4 linked regions of the Homo sapiens genome follow. The protein of the gene in region 2 purifies or fractionates together with the protein of the main gene of each other region. This does not show direct contact. Each region holds a gene or a part of one and is shown on either strand. Other genes may lie near its edges.

The links.
Region 1: the proteins of FEZ1 (region 2) and IFT140 purify together in Homo sapiens (affinity purification with mass spectrometry; 2 studies listed by BioGRID and IntAct, with this or other methods). This does not show direct contact.
Region 3: the proteins of FEZ1 (region 2) and MRS2 purify together in Homo sapiens (co-immunoprecipitation; 3 studies listed by BioGRID and IntAct, with this or other methods). This does not show direct contact.
Region 4: the proteins of FEZ1 (region 2) and NELFA purify together in Homo sapiens (affinity purification with mass spectrometry; 2 studies listed by BioGRID and IntAct, with this or other methods). This does not show direct contact.

Annotation. Positions count from the first base shown.
Region 1 is NC_000016.10:1,584,539-1,588,072, reverse strand, and holds part of IFT140 (intraflagellar transport protein 140 homolog), read left to right. Parts: intron 1-48; coding exon 49-140; intron 141-768; coding exon 769-875; intron 876-887; exon of another isoform or gene 888-944; coding exon of another isoform or gene 945-978; intron 979-1,797; coding exon 1,798-1,943; intron 1,944-3,534. UniProt on the Homo sapiens protein: Component of the IFT complex A (IFT-A), a complex required for retrograde ciliary transport and entry into cilia of G protein-coupled receptors (GPCRs).
Region 2 is NC_000011.10:125,486,265-125,489,798, reverse strand, and holds part of FEZ1 (fasciculation and elongation protein zeta-1), read left to right. Parts: 5' UTR 1-21; coding exon 22-332; coding exon of another isoform or gene 333-336; exon of another isoform or gene 337-1,600; intron 1,601-3,534. UniProt on the Homo sapiens protein: May be involved in axonal outgrowth as component of the network of molecules that regulate cellular morphology and axon guidance machinery.
Region 3 is NC_000006.12:24,419,936-24,423,346, reverse strand, and holds part of MRS2 (magnesium transporter MRS2 homolog, mitochondrial isoform b precursor), read right to left. Parts: intron 411-3,411; coding exon 297-410; coding exon of another isoform or gene 291-296; exon of another isoform or gene 1-290. UniProt on the Homo sapiens protein: Magnesium transporter that mediates the influx of magnesium into the mitochondrial matrix and regulates magnesium metabolism. Also permeable to calcium, sodium and potassium ions.
Region 4 is NC_000004.12:1,988,441-1,991,974, forward strand, and holds part of NELFA (negative elongation factor A), read right to left. Parts: intron 3,276-3,534; coding exon 3,104-3,275; intron 1,430-3,103; coding exon 1,268-1,429; intron 1-1,267. UniProt on the Homo sapiens protein: Essential component of the NELF complex, a complex that negatively regulates the elongation of transcription by RNA polymerase II.

The sequences.
Region 1 (3,534 bases), on a different chromosome or scaffold from region 2:
GCCGTCTCAGCAAGCACGGTGCCTCTGCTCGGTTGTTTCCTCACACAGGTCAAGCTGAGCGGGAAAACCGGCCGCCGGGCAGACATCGCTTTGATTGAAGGCAGCCTTCTCGTGATGGCCGTCGGGGAGGCTGCCCTCAGGTGAGAGTCTGCCTTTCCAGTGCCCCTTGATGAGAGTTCCCTGAGGAACAGGCTCCTCTAAGTCAGCTTTGTGTTGGAATGGAGCATATGTAAAATGCACATATGATGCTGAGTGCTCTCATACTGGACGTACCCATTCACCAGCTCCCAGACTGAGGAGCTGAGCATTAAGAGACCCCAAGAGTCCCTGCCCGCCCCACTGCACTCCCTCGGGGCTCCCCTTACCCCCAGGTGGCCCTGCCTTGGTGTTTGCCCGTGGAATCTCTTTGCCTGGTTTTTCGGAGTGTGGCATAACTAGAATCAGTCGTTGTGGTCTCTGCTGCCTGCTGCGTTAGCTCAGTGTGCTGTCCGGGGCCATCTCGTGCTCTGTGTGGGGCTGCAATTCCTGTGTTCTCTTGGCGACCTCCTGCCATATACAAACCACCATCTATCGGCAACGGCTTTCTTTCATTAGAAACAGGACATAAAATGTCCCAAATGTAACAGCAGTGTTCGTTTTCATATCAGGAGTCTGATGAACTATGTCTTTTTCCTGACTTTTAATGTTTGCTCCACAGGTTCAAAAACCCCTCAGAGGGAAACGCCACTAACACAGGCCCTCCATGGGGCTTGCTTTCTTCTGTTGTAGATTCTGGGACATAGAACGAGGAGAGAATTATATACTGAGTCCAGATGAGAAGTTTGGCTTTGAGAAAGGAGAGAATATGAACTGTGTGTGTTACTGTAAAGTCAAAGGTGAGGCTTCCTGGCCTGGCACAAGAGAAACAGAACCAACCACAAGCATTGTGCGCCGGCTGCAAAATAATGGTAGTGAAACGTGGAGGCTACTCACACAATGGTAACTTGGTAACTCACAGCCATTCAAATAGTCGGGCAAGGGCAAGCAAGCAACGGCAGAGCTTTGTGATCCCACATGAAGGCCAGGGGGTTTGGTTAGAAGCATGACAACCTGCATCCCAGTACTTGGGGAGGCTGAGGAGGGAGGATCACTTGAGCCCAGGAGTTCAAGACCAGCCTGAGCTACATAGTGAGACCCCGTCTCCACAAAAAATACAAAAATTAGCCAGGTGTGATGGTGTACAGCGGTGGTCCCATCTACTCAGGAGGCTGAGGTGGGAGGATTGCTTGAGCCTGGGAGGTTGAGGCTGCAGTGACCTAAGATGGTGCCAGTGCACTCCAGTCTGTGTGACAGAGCGTGACCCCATCTAACAAGAAGCAAACCGATTCCTGCTCATTGATCTCTGTTCCCTCCTGAAATGCCACGGGAAGGACAGTGCAGGAAGTGTGTGTGTGTGTGTGTGTGTGCATGCATGTGTGTGTATGTGTGCATATGCACATCCAGAGCACAGGAGACTAGGAGGTGAGCCAGAGCCGCGTCTCTAGTGCCTGCTGAGTGCTGAGCATGGGGCAGCCCCGAGCCAGGCCAACTGGCCTCTAGGAAAGCTGGGAGAGCAGCATCCCCCACCACCCCCGCACTGGCACTGTGAGGTCAGGGCAGCAAGGACCTGGGCAGAAAGATGCAGCCAGGGATGAGGTGGAGAGGCACCAGACTGGGCGAGGGCTGATGCTTTGAAGAAGGGGGTTAGAGAACAGAGCTTGTTGCTGTTTTGTTCCCTTTTTTTAACTCTGTTCACATGCAGTTTGTTTCTACCTGTAGGTCTTCTGGCCGCTGGTACCGACAGAGGGCGAGTAGCCATGTGGAGGAAAGTACCAGACTTCCTGGGCAGCCCCGGGGCAGAGGGCAAGGACAGGTGGGCCCTTCAGACCCCTACCGAGCTCCAAGGAAACATCACGCAAATCCAGGTACAGCCTCCAAGGGTGTTCGGTGCACTCATTTTCTGCTGCATGAAAGTGGAGACCATGGCCGGGCGCGGTGGCTCACGCCTGTAATCCCAGCACTTTGGGAGGCCAAGGCGGGTGGATCATGAGGTCAGGAGATCGAGACCATCCTGGCTAACACGGTGAAACCCTGTCTCTACTAAAAAATACAAAAAATTAGCCGGGCGTGGTGGCGGGCGCCTGTAGCCTCAGCTACTCAGGAGGCTGCGGCAGGAGAATGTCGTGAACCCAGGAGCTGGAGCTTGCAGTGAGCCGAGATTGTGCCACTGCACTCCAGCCTGGGAGACAGAGTGAGACTCCGTCTCAAAAAAAAAAAAAAAAAAAAAAGAAAGTGGAGGCCATAAATGACTCTGAACCTATTTTTATCAGTTATTCAACTTAAGACTATGTGAAAATAACAATAATAAGACATTTTAAAAGACCTTTTGGATTTCAGAATTGCAGATAAGAGATTGTGGACCTGTATTAGTTATAATATGTATCTACCCACGAACCCATCCCTCCCTCTCCATCTCTCTCTATCTGTATGAAAAAGAGCTTTACTGAGATATAACTCATGATATATACAAAGTGGTTTTTGGTATATTCACAATTTTACAAACATCACTGCAGTGAATTCTAGAACAGTTTCAGCGCCACAAAAAATCTGTACCTTTTAGTGGTCGCTCTTATTTTCCCCTCTCCAGCCCTTGGCAGCCACTAATCTACCTCCTCTCTCTAAGGATTTGCCCATTCTGGATGTTTCATGGAAATGGAATCACACAACACCTGGTCTTTTGTGCCCGGCTGCTCCCACTGAGCTGAGGTTTCAAGGCCCCTCCAGATTGTAGCCTGTGTCAATGCTTTGCTCCTTTTCATGGCTGAATCACATTCTCTGCTGTGAACAGACCACGTTTTCTTTCTCCATTCATCAGTTGATGGACATTTGAATAATGCTGTTACGAACACTTGTGTACACGTTTTTGTGTGAGGATGTTTTAATTTCTCTGCAGCATTTGGTTCTTTCTTATGATTTCTCTCTGTTCCTGTTCTCTACCTGATGAGACACTGTCGTTGTAGCTTCCTTCACTTCACCAGGCTGGTTTCCTTCAGCTCCTTCACCACGTTTCCAGTGGCTGCTTTGAAGTCTTTGCTAAGTCCAACATCTGAGCCCTTTCAGAGCAGTTTCTGATGTCTGGGTTTTTTCCTATATGGAATTTATACTTTCCTATTTTGCATAGGTCTTTATTTATTTTTAGATAGATTTAGAAGTTTAATATAAAATTATGAAACCAACATTTCACATCAGCAGAAGAAAGCTGGATAATTTAATCCATTATGTAAACTTCCTGTCTGTTTATAAAAAACATAAACATCCCTATGTCACACTCAGAAAAGTGTGTCCCACTCAGAAAAACTCTAGAAAACGCTCTTCCCATCAGAACAGACATACCAGTGCTGCCTGTCCAATCACAACCCTTGAGCATCAGTATCTTGAAGTCTTTCTACACAGCATACTCTTTACCTTTATAAGACTTTTCTTATAATGTCTTATAAGATCATTTTTTAAGTCCGG
Region 2 (3,534 bases):
TTGTTCTCCTGCTGAGCAAGAATGGAGGCCCCACTGGTGAGTCTGGATGAAGAGTTTGAGGACCTTCGACCCTCCTGCTCGGAGGACCCGGAGGAGAAGCCCCAGTGTTTCTATGGTTCATCTCCCCACCATCTCGAGGACCCCTCCCTCTCCGAGCTTGAGAATTTTTCTTCCGAAATAATCAGCTTCAAGTCCATGGAGGACCTCGTAAATGAATTTGATGAGAAGCTCAATGTCTGCTTTCGGAACTACAACGCCAAGACCGAGAACCTAGCTCCCGTGAAGAACCAGTTACAGATCCAAGAGGAGGAGGAGACCCTTCAGGACGAGGAGTAAGAAGTCTTAATTGCCCTCTCCTGCTTCAGTCGAGAGCCCTGTAGTCCTTGTCTCCTTGACATAGTGCTGGTTTCTGTCTATAGGTTTATGGGCTATTACTTTCATTTTCGTGTTGCCAGCGGAGCAGTGCCCTGGTACTTGCTGTCATAGCTCTATATATGTCCCTTTACAGTCCCCTGAGGAGAACTTTCTTAAATTGAAACCTTAGAGGAATGAAGGTTTTCCTAGATACAAAATGGAATTTCAGGAGCACAGTAAATTTCAGGGTCTGTCTATCTTAAGCTTTCTTTATATCAGTGGAAATCCAGCGAGATATTAGAAATAAAGGCCAGAAAAAATTAATTAACCATGATGGATGAATCTATGTTATTGGACTAATTTGCTTCAAGAAACACCAGAATTTTGAAAATCCCGAATTTTTGACAGCCCCTCAGGCCTGGAGAGTTATCTACAGATGTTAGGATATGTCCACATAAGAAAGCATCTAAACTGAACTGAGAGCACAGCGGGCTACCCTGGACAAAGTAAAGGTGGAAACTAGGTGATGTGGCCTTTGAGTATGCAGATTCCTTGTATCACTTGCTCGCTACTTTCTAGGGTCTTAATAGTAGTCAAGAAAAGGGATCTGAGAAAAGTACTCTTTCAGGAGGGACTAGAAAGAGAAGGGGGTGATATGTTACACAAATTAAAGAAGGATGTCTTAGGCATTTAGTAAAAATTCAGTGGTTCCCCGCTATCCTCGGGGGATGTGTTTTTTTGTTTTGTTTTGTTTTGTTTTTTTTTGAGATGAAGTTTCATTCTATCGCCCAGGCTGGAGTGCAATGGCACAATTTTGGCTCACTGCAACCTCCACCTCCCAGGTTCAAGCTATTCTCCTGCCTCAGCCTCCTGAGTAGCTGGGACTACAGGTGTGCGCCACCATGCCCGACTAATTTTTGTATTTTGAGTAGAGATGGGAGTTTCACCATGTTGGCCAGGCTGGTCTCGAACTCCTGACCTGGTGATTTGCCCGCCTTGGCCTCCCAAAGTGCTGGGATTACAGGCGTGAGTCACCACACCTGGCCCATGGTGGGGGATATGTTTTAAGACCCCCAGTTAATGCCTGAAACCGCTGCTAGTACCAAACCCTAATGTTTTTTCCTGTATGTACGTACATATGATAAAGTTCAGTTTATAAGTTAGGCACAGTAAGAGACTAACAACAGCTCACAGCAAAATAGAGCAATTATAACAATATATTGTAATAAAAATTATGTGAATGTGGTCTCTCTTTCTCTCTCTCTTTCAAAATATTTCATTGTACTGTACAGCAGATAACCGAGCCCTGGGAAAGCAAAACCACAGATAAGGGGGGACTACTGTCTACATGAGTTCCCTGCAGAGATACAATATGCATCCATTGTTCTTAGCTATCACACAAGAAATGTCAAACGTCAGGGAAGTCTGAAGCACCTGTGCTTTTGTTTCCCTTTTTGTGGATTTGAGTGGGAAGAATGGCCCACAAATAATGGGGTAAGAGGCACGTCCTAGAGGATTGGAACCTGACTGTATTTGGGAGAGGGTTGCTTATTTGATGACTACTGTAAGACTCTACTTTTACACATAGAGGGGCCAAATATCTGTCTGATTCACTCTTACAGCCCCACTGTCTAATACAGTGCAATGTGCAAATAATATTTTTGAATGAAATATTGAATATCAAATAAACTAGATGAGTGATAATAGCTAGTAGCCTTGTATGTACATGTAATATATTTCTAAGCCCACACCATTTCCTTCTTTTCTTTTTAATTAATGCTGGCCGGAAGGTATGATCACAGAGAACATTTCATTCTGCTGACTAGTACTATAGCTGTGGGCTATGTGTTTAAATTTTAAGTTTCAAACAGATTCTTTTTAGATTCTGAGCCTGTTATCTGCTCAACATTTATAAGTCAAAAAAGAATGGCTCTGGGGGTTTATTATGCCGAATATTTTTTCGTTCTAGTGCACCAGCCAATGAACTAGAAATACAAAGACTATGAATTCTAATTTTGGTACTCTCTCTAACTCGCTGTGTGACCTTGGGCAAGTCATTTAACCCTGGTTGACTGTGTAGGTCCTCATCTATGAAACCTCCAGAGCTCAATCTTGATGAAGTGAGGCTAAGGACTTGTAAAGAACCTAATTTCTTACCTCACCCAGGATGCCCAGGTGCTCTGAAAATGACATTTCAAGATGCGTCCCATTCCTTTTGCTTCCAACAAATCATTTCCCCCCTATCAAAACCCCTCCTCTGCCTCATTAAGGATGAAGGCCCAATGAGCAGATTCTTACTGTCTTCTAGCACATTAGAAGAGGCCACTCAATGTTAATTACCATCACATGGGATTATTGGCCTCCTCAGCCTGATTTTTCTGACTTGACTGCCTCATTGACTGCCTCAGTTAAGAGACCAAAGATTGAATAATTCCTTCGAGATAAGGTATAATTTGGGGACAGTGTAGCGGGAGGAAGCTGGGAAGAGAAAAATTAACACAACACTTTCTAGGCATTCAGTTCTAACCCCTCTTTATAATTTAAAATAAAAATCAGAATTCTGTTACACACTTTGTTTCATAGACACTATCCAGATATTTCAACTGTGAAATTATGGCTAAGTAAAGGAAAAGGGTGACTTAATATCTCACCTGACTACACTTCTCCTGAACATAGCTCTAATGTTATTGTTATAAACTTGTTCCGGTTTAGTATTTAGAGGGCTGTTTCATCCACAAATGAGTGAAAAGTGCTGTGGATGGGTTAGAGGTAAATAATAGAAGCTTAAAACAAAAGCAGGGAAATACTTGGTTAAACTGCCTCCTTAAAGACAGCACAAATCATAGAGCAAATGTAGTGATTCCCTTAGAAGCTTTCTTTAGTCTTCATTTGGAACTATTTAGCCAAGAGGGGAGTTGGCTAAGATTTGTCAACTTATCTCTGATCTGTCAGGGCATGGAAGTTCTAGGCATTAAAGGAGAGTCAGATTTGAATACACATTTTTTGGTTTTGCATTCAAGAAATATCCCAGAATCTCTTCTTTGTGTATATGTGACCACCCTCTTCCTTTGCCATAAGAGATTGGGCCTGGAGGTCACAGCCTCTTAGGGGTCACTACAAAATGGAAATTGACGGCCCTCAGCTTACCTCCTACGTCACTGGGGATCCCTATCAGCCCTC
Region 3 (3,411 bases), on a different chromosome or scaffold from region 2:
GAATTACTAACATCTGTTTAAATGTATGTTGTCAGAGTTCTACACAAATTATATTTCTAACTTATTGTGTTAGGCAGTGTGCTAGTAAGTGCTTTACACATATTGTTTAATTCTTCCCATAACCCTATGAAGCAGGTAATACCGACTTAACTGACAGATAGGGAAACTGAAGGAAGTTTGAGAAAGCAACTCGCAAGGGCCATAGTGCCTGTGACAACTTAATCCCAGGCGCTCTGACTTTAGGGCCCATGATCATAACCCTTCCACAATACCGCCGTGAACCATATCCTTCATACCATAGGAGGCAATGGAGCTTCTAGCTGTCGTCCAAGGAATGAAAGCAGGCGCCTCCAGATGAGGCCACTTCCCATGAACATAATTCCTGTAATCAGCCAAAAAATTCTATGGTCCTAAAAGAGAACACAGTTCATTTCCATCGCAAAACGCCAGGTTCCTTAGAAGATTCCTTGAATTGTTACTGCCCCAGAGTTTGAAAGCCTTATGTTATTTGTACAGCTCTTTCCTGTAGAAAGGAACTAAGAAAAACAAGGGCCTTGATAGCACCCACAGAATAAAGCAGGAGAAGAACATGATTTAAAAGGTTTTAAATATTTTAAAATCATCTATATGCCAAATGTACTGCTTTTACTTTGTGTTTCTTTGCAGCCTTTGTTTACATGCGTGCAAATCTTAAGTCATGATGCCAGAGGACACGCAATTTAAGGTCTTTGCTTATATCCACAGTTCTCAAACTGTGAGCTGAATGTCTGGTGCTATGCTGGGCACGATAGCACCTCAGAATATTTTAAAGTTGCAAGGGAAATAACATAAAGGAATCTGTAACATAATAAATTTTTTGTCTTCCGATACTGTGAAAAAATTACTAAGACACTAAGGGCATCGTGATCCAAGGAAGTTTGGGAACCTCAGACTTAGAAAAACATTCTTCCTCACCGTCATTTTCAGAGTGGTAATATTTTGCAGCACACTGTTTTTAGTTAATGTACAGAATCACAGAATTTAAATTTAATCTCTCACAAGGAAGGAATCCCATTTATAGCTATGCTGTTATCATTGGCTCCAATGATTGAGAGCTCACTTCCTCAAAGATAGCCTGTTACACAACTGATCAGCTATCACTGATGGAAATGCATGTCACTTATTGAACAGAAATCTGCCTCCTCTTTTTGTTGTTGTTGAGATGGAGTCTTGCTCTTCACCCAGGATGGAGTCCAGTGGCTCAATCTTGGCTCACTGCAACCTCCGTCTACCTGATTCAAGCGATTCTTGTGCCTCGGCCCCCCTGAGTAGCTGGGATTACAGGTGTGCGGCACCATGCCCAGCTAATTTTTGTATTTTTAGTAGAGATGGGGTTTCACCATGTTGGTCAGGCTGGTCTCGAACTCCTGGCCTAAAGTGATCTGCCCACCTTGGCCTACCAAAGTGCTGGGATTACAGGTGTGAACCACAACCCCCAGTCCTATATGCAATATGTGATCTAAGATTTTCTTTGTGATAAAAAGCACTACTGAGATAAGTGGCAAAATCTGAGTAGGGTCTTTAGATTGGAAAATAACTTCAGTATTAACTTCCTGATTTTGATAGCTGCACTGTGGTTATGTAAGAGGATGTCCATGTTTTAGGAAATACGTATTAAGACATTTAGGAGTAAAGGAACATCACATTTGTTCTTAGTCTCAAATAATTTAGAGAATAAAGTATGCTAGCAAAGAAATGATAAAGCAAATGTGATAAAATGTTGATATTTGGAATCTGGTTTAAGAAAATGGAAATTCTTTGACTATTCTTGGAACTTTTCCAGAAGTCTGAAATTATCTTAAAATATTTTTCCTATCTCAGATTCACCATGGCAAATATTAATTTTAACTATATCGAAATAAAGACATTTGACATCCATGGATTTAATGTTTTCAACTATTCTTCAGGACACCTACAAAGATGTGTAATTTGTAATTCTGATAAGACATTAATTTGAATCTTTTCAGCCTACTACTGAGCAAGCGTAGCTCACTACCACCTACCACTCTTATCTCATTACAAATGGGCTGTGCTGTACCTAGGATTGCACATACTAAAACTATAAGAAAGGAATTTGAAAAATCTTCCATTGTTTTGAAAAGTTGGCAATTAAGTGAGAGAAAAATATCAAAGTATAAAATGGAGTTAGCTTGTAGATTGAGTATATATACATAAACATGATTATGTATTTAGAGAAAAGACAGGGACTTGTAGAGAAAGTCCTGTAGTCACACTTAGGGAATCTGTAAAGGTCTTTGGATGTATCTTTTGAGAATGTCAATGGCTGGATTATGTTGCACAAGGTATTCTGCTTGCTTCTGAACTTTCCAATGATCTAGATTTGAGTTCAAACCTCCAGTGGGTTCCTATCCCACTTAGAAATCCAAACCCCTACCACGCTCTACGTCACTGACATGATCATACTTATCTGCATCTGGGACCTCATTTTCCACCTGACTCATGCTCTTCTAACCATTCCAACCTTCTTGCCATTTCATGAACAAGCTCAGATCGTTCCTGCCTCAATCTTTACTTCTGTGGTTCCCTCTACTTAGAACACTCTCCCCCAGATCTTCCTGCCTCCACCAGGGTGTTACCGCCTTACATCTTCCTTGACCACCCTATCTCTAAAATGCCACACATCCTACTGCCTAACATTCTCTATCCGCTTCTCTGGCTTTATTTTTCTCTGAGGCACTTAGCACTTAACATACTTTGTTTGTTTATGAACTCTCTCCTCCACTACAATATAACCTACGCAAGGGCAGACTCACTGCTAAATGGGCCTAAAGCAGTGCTTGGTATATAACAGGCAATAAAAAAACGTATTTGTGAGATGAATGAACACATGTATTTCCTTTTCTTTTATACTTTACATTAAAAATGACTAATACTGTCTTTGCTTCAAGGAGCTCATGCTCTTTTGCAGGCTTTGAACAAGGGATTGCAGATTTAAGGAATGTAGCAGATGGAAGGGTAGGATTATTTGGGCGCAGACGACAAAGTAACTTTACTGGGCCAGGTTGTCGGTGCATTCAGTGAAGGGACAACTACTTTGAGACCTGAAAGATGAGGAGGAAGTAACTAAGCAAAACGGGGATCTGAGGGGAGAGGAGTGGAAGCAGCATGTCTGGGAAGGACACTGAGAGAGGTAGTAACAAGTGGCTACCCACAAGATGGACAAGTCGGTGCGGCAGGACGGGATTTTTATCCTAAGGCTAATCAAAAGCCATTGAATAGTTGTATGCAGAAGGGTGTCATAATACTTACATCTTATAAAGACCACTTTTTAAAAGGGCATAGTGGTCCTAATGGGAGGTGATGTGGGCAACAGAGTAGACTCGTTAGACTAATGAGGACACAGAATCCAGC
Region 4 (3,534 bases), on a different chromosome or scaffold from region 2:
AGGGGACACCGAGTGCCCAAAGCAGACCCTGTGGCCACTGCTGGCCTCCAAAGGGGGTGGGGCCCAAGGGGCCAGCAGAGTCCTTCCTGGGCTACCCAGTGGGCCCGGGGCTGCACGGAGCCTCCCGGACAGCGCTGGGCCCTGGCTGCTGCCCGTTCCAGCCAAGATCCATGCACAGCTGCTGTCAGCCTTTTATTTGGATTCTCTGGAAACGGGGTATTGATGTACATTATAAATATTAATTCCATAACCATTCAAAATAAAACGATGTTATTGAAATCTTTGTCGTGCTTTGGGAAAACGTTAACTGAAATGATTAAATATCTTTCAAGTGGAATTGAGATCACCCGCCACTCCAGAAGGCAGCAACGTGAGAGTAAGGAACGTGCCCCTCCAGCCATTCACCCTGGCACCCACCGTGCCCAACAGCGTGACTCAGCTGGCACAGAGTTCATTTGGTCACAGAGATTAGAGATGCCTTCACCTAAAATTCTGAAGTTGGTGGGTTTTTTTTTTTTTTTTGAGATGTTGTTTCGCTCTTGTTGCCCAGGCTGGAGTGCAGTGGGGCAATCTTGGCTCACTGCAACCTCCGCCTCCCAGGTTCAAGTGATTCTCTTGCCTCAGCCTCCCAAGCAACTGGGATTACAGGCATGCACCACCACAGCCAGCTAATTTTTGTATTTTTAGTAGAGACGGGGTTTCACCATGTGGGCCAGGCTGGTCTCGATCTCCTGACCTCAGGTGATCTGCTGGCCTCAGCCTCCCAAAGTGCTGGGTTTACAGGTGTGAGCCACCATGCCCAGCCTAAATTCTGAAGTTTTTAAAGCATGTTTTCAGAACATAAAGTTTAATATAGTGATAAACTTCTAACAAAAAACTTTATGCAGAACTTTATCTTCTTTTTCTTGAGACAGGGTCTCACTCTCTCCCAGGCTGGAGTGTAGTGGTGTGATCACAGCTCACTGCAGCCTCAACCTCGTGGGCTCAGGTGATCCTCCTACCTCAGCCTTCCGAGTAGCTGGGAGCACAGGCACGCACCACCATGCCCGGCTAATGTTTTGGTACTTTTGGTAGAGATGGGGTTTCTTGGCTGGTCTCAAACTCCTGGGCTCAAACGACCCACCTGCCCCAGCCTCCCAACAGGTGTGAGCCACCATGCCTGGCCCAGAACGCCACCTTGAAGGGGCAGTCTTGGTACCTTAGAACCTAAGAAACCTATGACTGGAAACTACAAAGACAATGCCCGATGGCGGCCGCGGCCACTCACACTTCTGCAGCAGCTCCGCCCGCAGCGTGGCGCTCTTGGGTTTCCGCTTTAACTGAAAATGCTTCACCGGGGGAGTGAGGGGTCCCGCGAGGGTCGTCAGGGCGTTTTTGTTCAAGTACTGGCACTCCAGTGGCAGCATGGCAGACGCTTCACACTCACCCACTGCCGGTAAGAACCACATGAAGTTAGGGGCGCCCAGGCCGCAGACCTCCCGGCTGAGAGGAGCTGGCGGCTGCCCAGCCCCACACCCTCCTCAGTTAGGGTTAGGTCATGGGAGCTTCGGCTGTCCCCTGAGGTCCTCGAGACTGACTCCCCACGGCTCCAGCAGAACACCCAGGAGCATTTGCAGAACAGGAATGCCTGAGAGGCGGGCATGCCTTGAGAGGGCTGTAAACTGGAAACCTCTGGCACCGCGGACACCAAGAACCACAGGCGGACATAGATACAGTGATTCCTGGAGGGCTCCAGACACTTGTAGAACATGAAATGTTAACAGATCCCACCCCCACGTAAGAAGGACCCCCGATCTGTGGCTTCTCTCTTCCCGTCCCCGAGGGTAGCCAGGCTGGTGGTCTCTCCTGGAACCCTGGCCCTCATCCAAACTGCCCACATCCATTTCCTCAGCCTGTGTGCTCACCCACGGTTCAGATCCCAGAAACTGCCCCACGAGGGACAGGCGACCTCCCACCTGAACTGGCTACGTGCCCCACCTGGAGAAAAAGCACAGGCAGGCACATGAGAGTTCACCGGCCTCAGCCTTCCTGCCCGCGGGACACTCCTGAGACACGAACGGGTGGGGTGGGGTGGACCTGTCCAGACCACTGCTCCAGAGGCATCTGTGTGGTGTGTGTGACCTCACAGGTGGGGAGAGGTGCCACTTGCAGGGGGGTGGCCAGCAGGGCCCCTGCAGGAGTGTGCAGCCTCGATGTCTCCATCCCACAACCCTGTCTCTCTGGGTGCTGCCCTTGAAGGAGCTGGGGCACAACGTTTGGGCTCTGAGGAGCCAGTTCCAATTGTCCAAAGCAGGAGAGAAACTCAGAAAAGCACAAGCATCAAGCATCCCATCAAGACATGTTCTTCAAATCCATCTACAAATAGTTGTTTCTTTTAAGAGATACATTCTCACCCTGTTACCCAGGCTGGAGTGCAGTGGCGCGATCATGGCTCACTGCAGCCTTGGCCTCCCAGGCTCAAGTGATCCTCCTGACTCAGCCTCCCAAGTACCTGGGAGGACAGGCATGTGCCATCACGCCCACCTAATTTTTATTTTTTGTACAAATGGGTTCTTGCTATGTTTCCCAGGCTGGTCTCGAACTCCTGGGCTCAAGCAATCTGGCCATCTCAGCCTCCCAAAGTGCTGGGGTTACAGGAGTGAGCCACGGAGCCCAGCCTTGTGAATATTTTCTAAGTGACTTTCAGTTCACATTTAAACAACTAAATCGTTGATATTTTCAACATGCATTTCTGAGCATGTACTCTGGGCCAGGGAATGCTCTGGGCCCTAGAACCTAGGATCTACAGATACCACCTGAATGGGCAGAGCCCCTACCCTCACGGAGCCGACCAGAGAGAGACGGCGAGTGGCGTGACACAGCCTCCCACTGACACCGCAGCAGTGAGGATGGGGCCTGTGGGCTGTTTGGAGTTTGTTTTCAAAGATGGCAAAAGCCAGGCAGCAGCTTACGGGGGAGGATGGTGCATATACAGTTAATATTCTAGGGACCAGGACACACGGAAAAACGTAAAGGTCTAAAAATCAAATTCATTTCAGAAAAAAATTTTTCAAGAAAGATCCATTTCCCTCCACCCAACATGAATTAAAGCAGCACAACATACCCTTTTCTCTAAGTTCTCCCAAAATATCCTGAACGTTGGGATTCTGCTCCTCCAGCTCCAGGTTAAGCGAGCCTGTGTCCGGAAAGGACTTCAAGATGTCGGCGACCATGAGCACCCAGGGGTCCGAGTCGAGGCTGGCGAGCTGGATGATCTCCATTAGGGCGCCCTTCATCTGCAAAATAGGATGCTGCCGGCGCCACCATGCCCCTGCCCACTTCCAAGCCCACTCCCTGCTGAGCTTCCGGATGGGCACTGGGCAGTGGCCGGGCTCTCTGGCAGTTGCCCCCAACACTTCCTCCTGAGGGCTCCCCTTCCTCTGAGCCCCCCGCCTCACCCCAGGGCCACCTTGCTTCCCTGAGCAGCACAGCCTCTGCCAGGTTGCAAGGCCCCGGCATCCGGTGCCCTCCCAGCAGCCTCCCACCTCCCAGCAG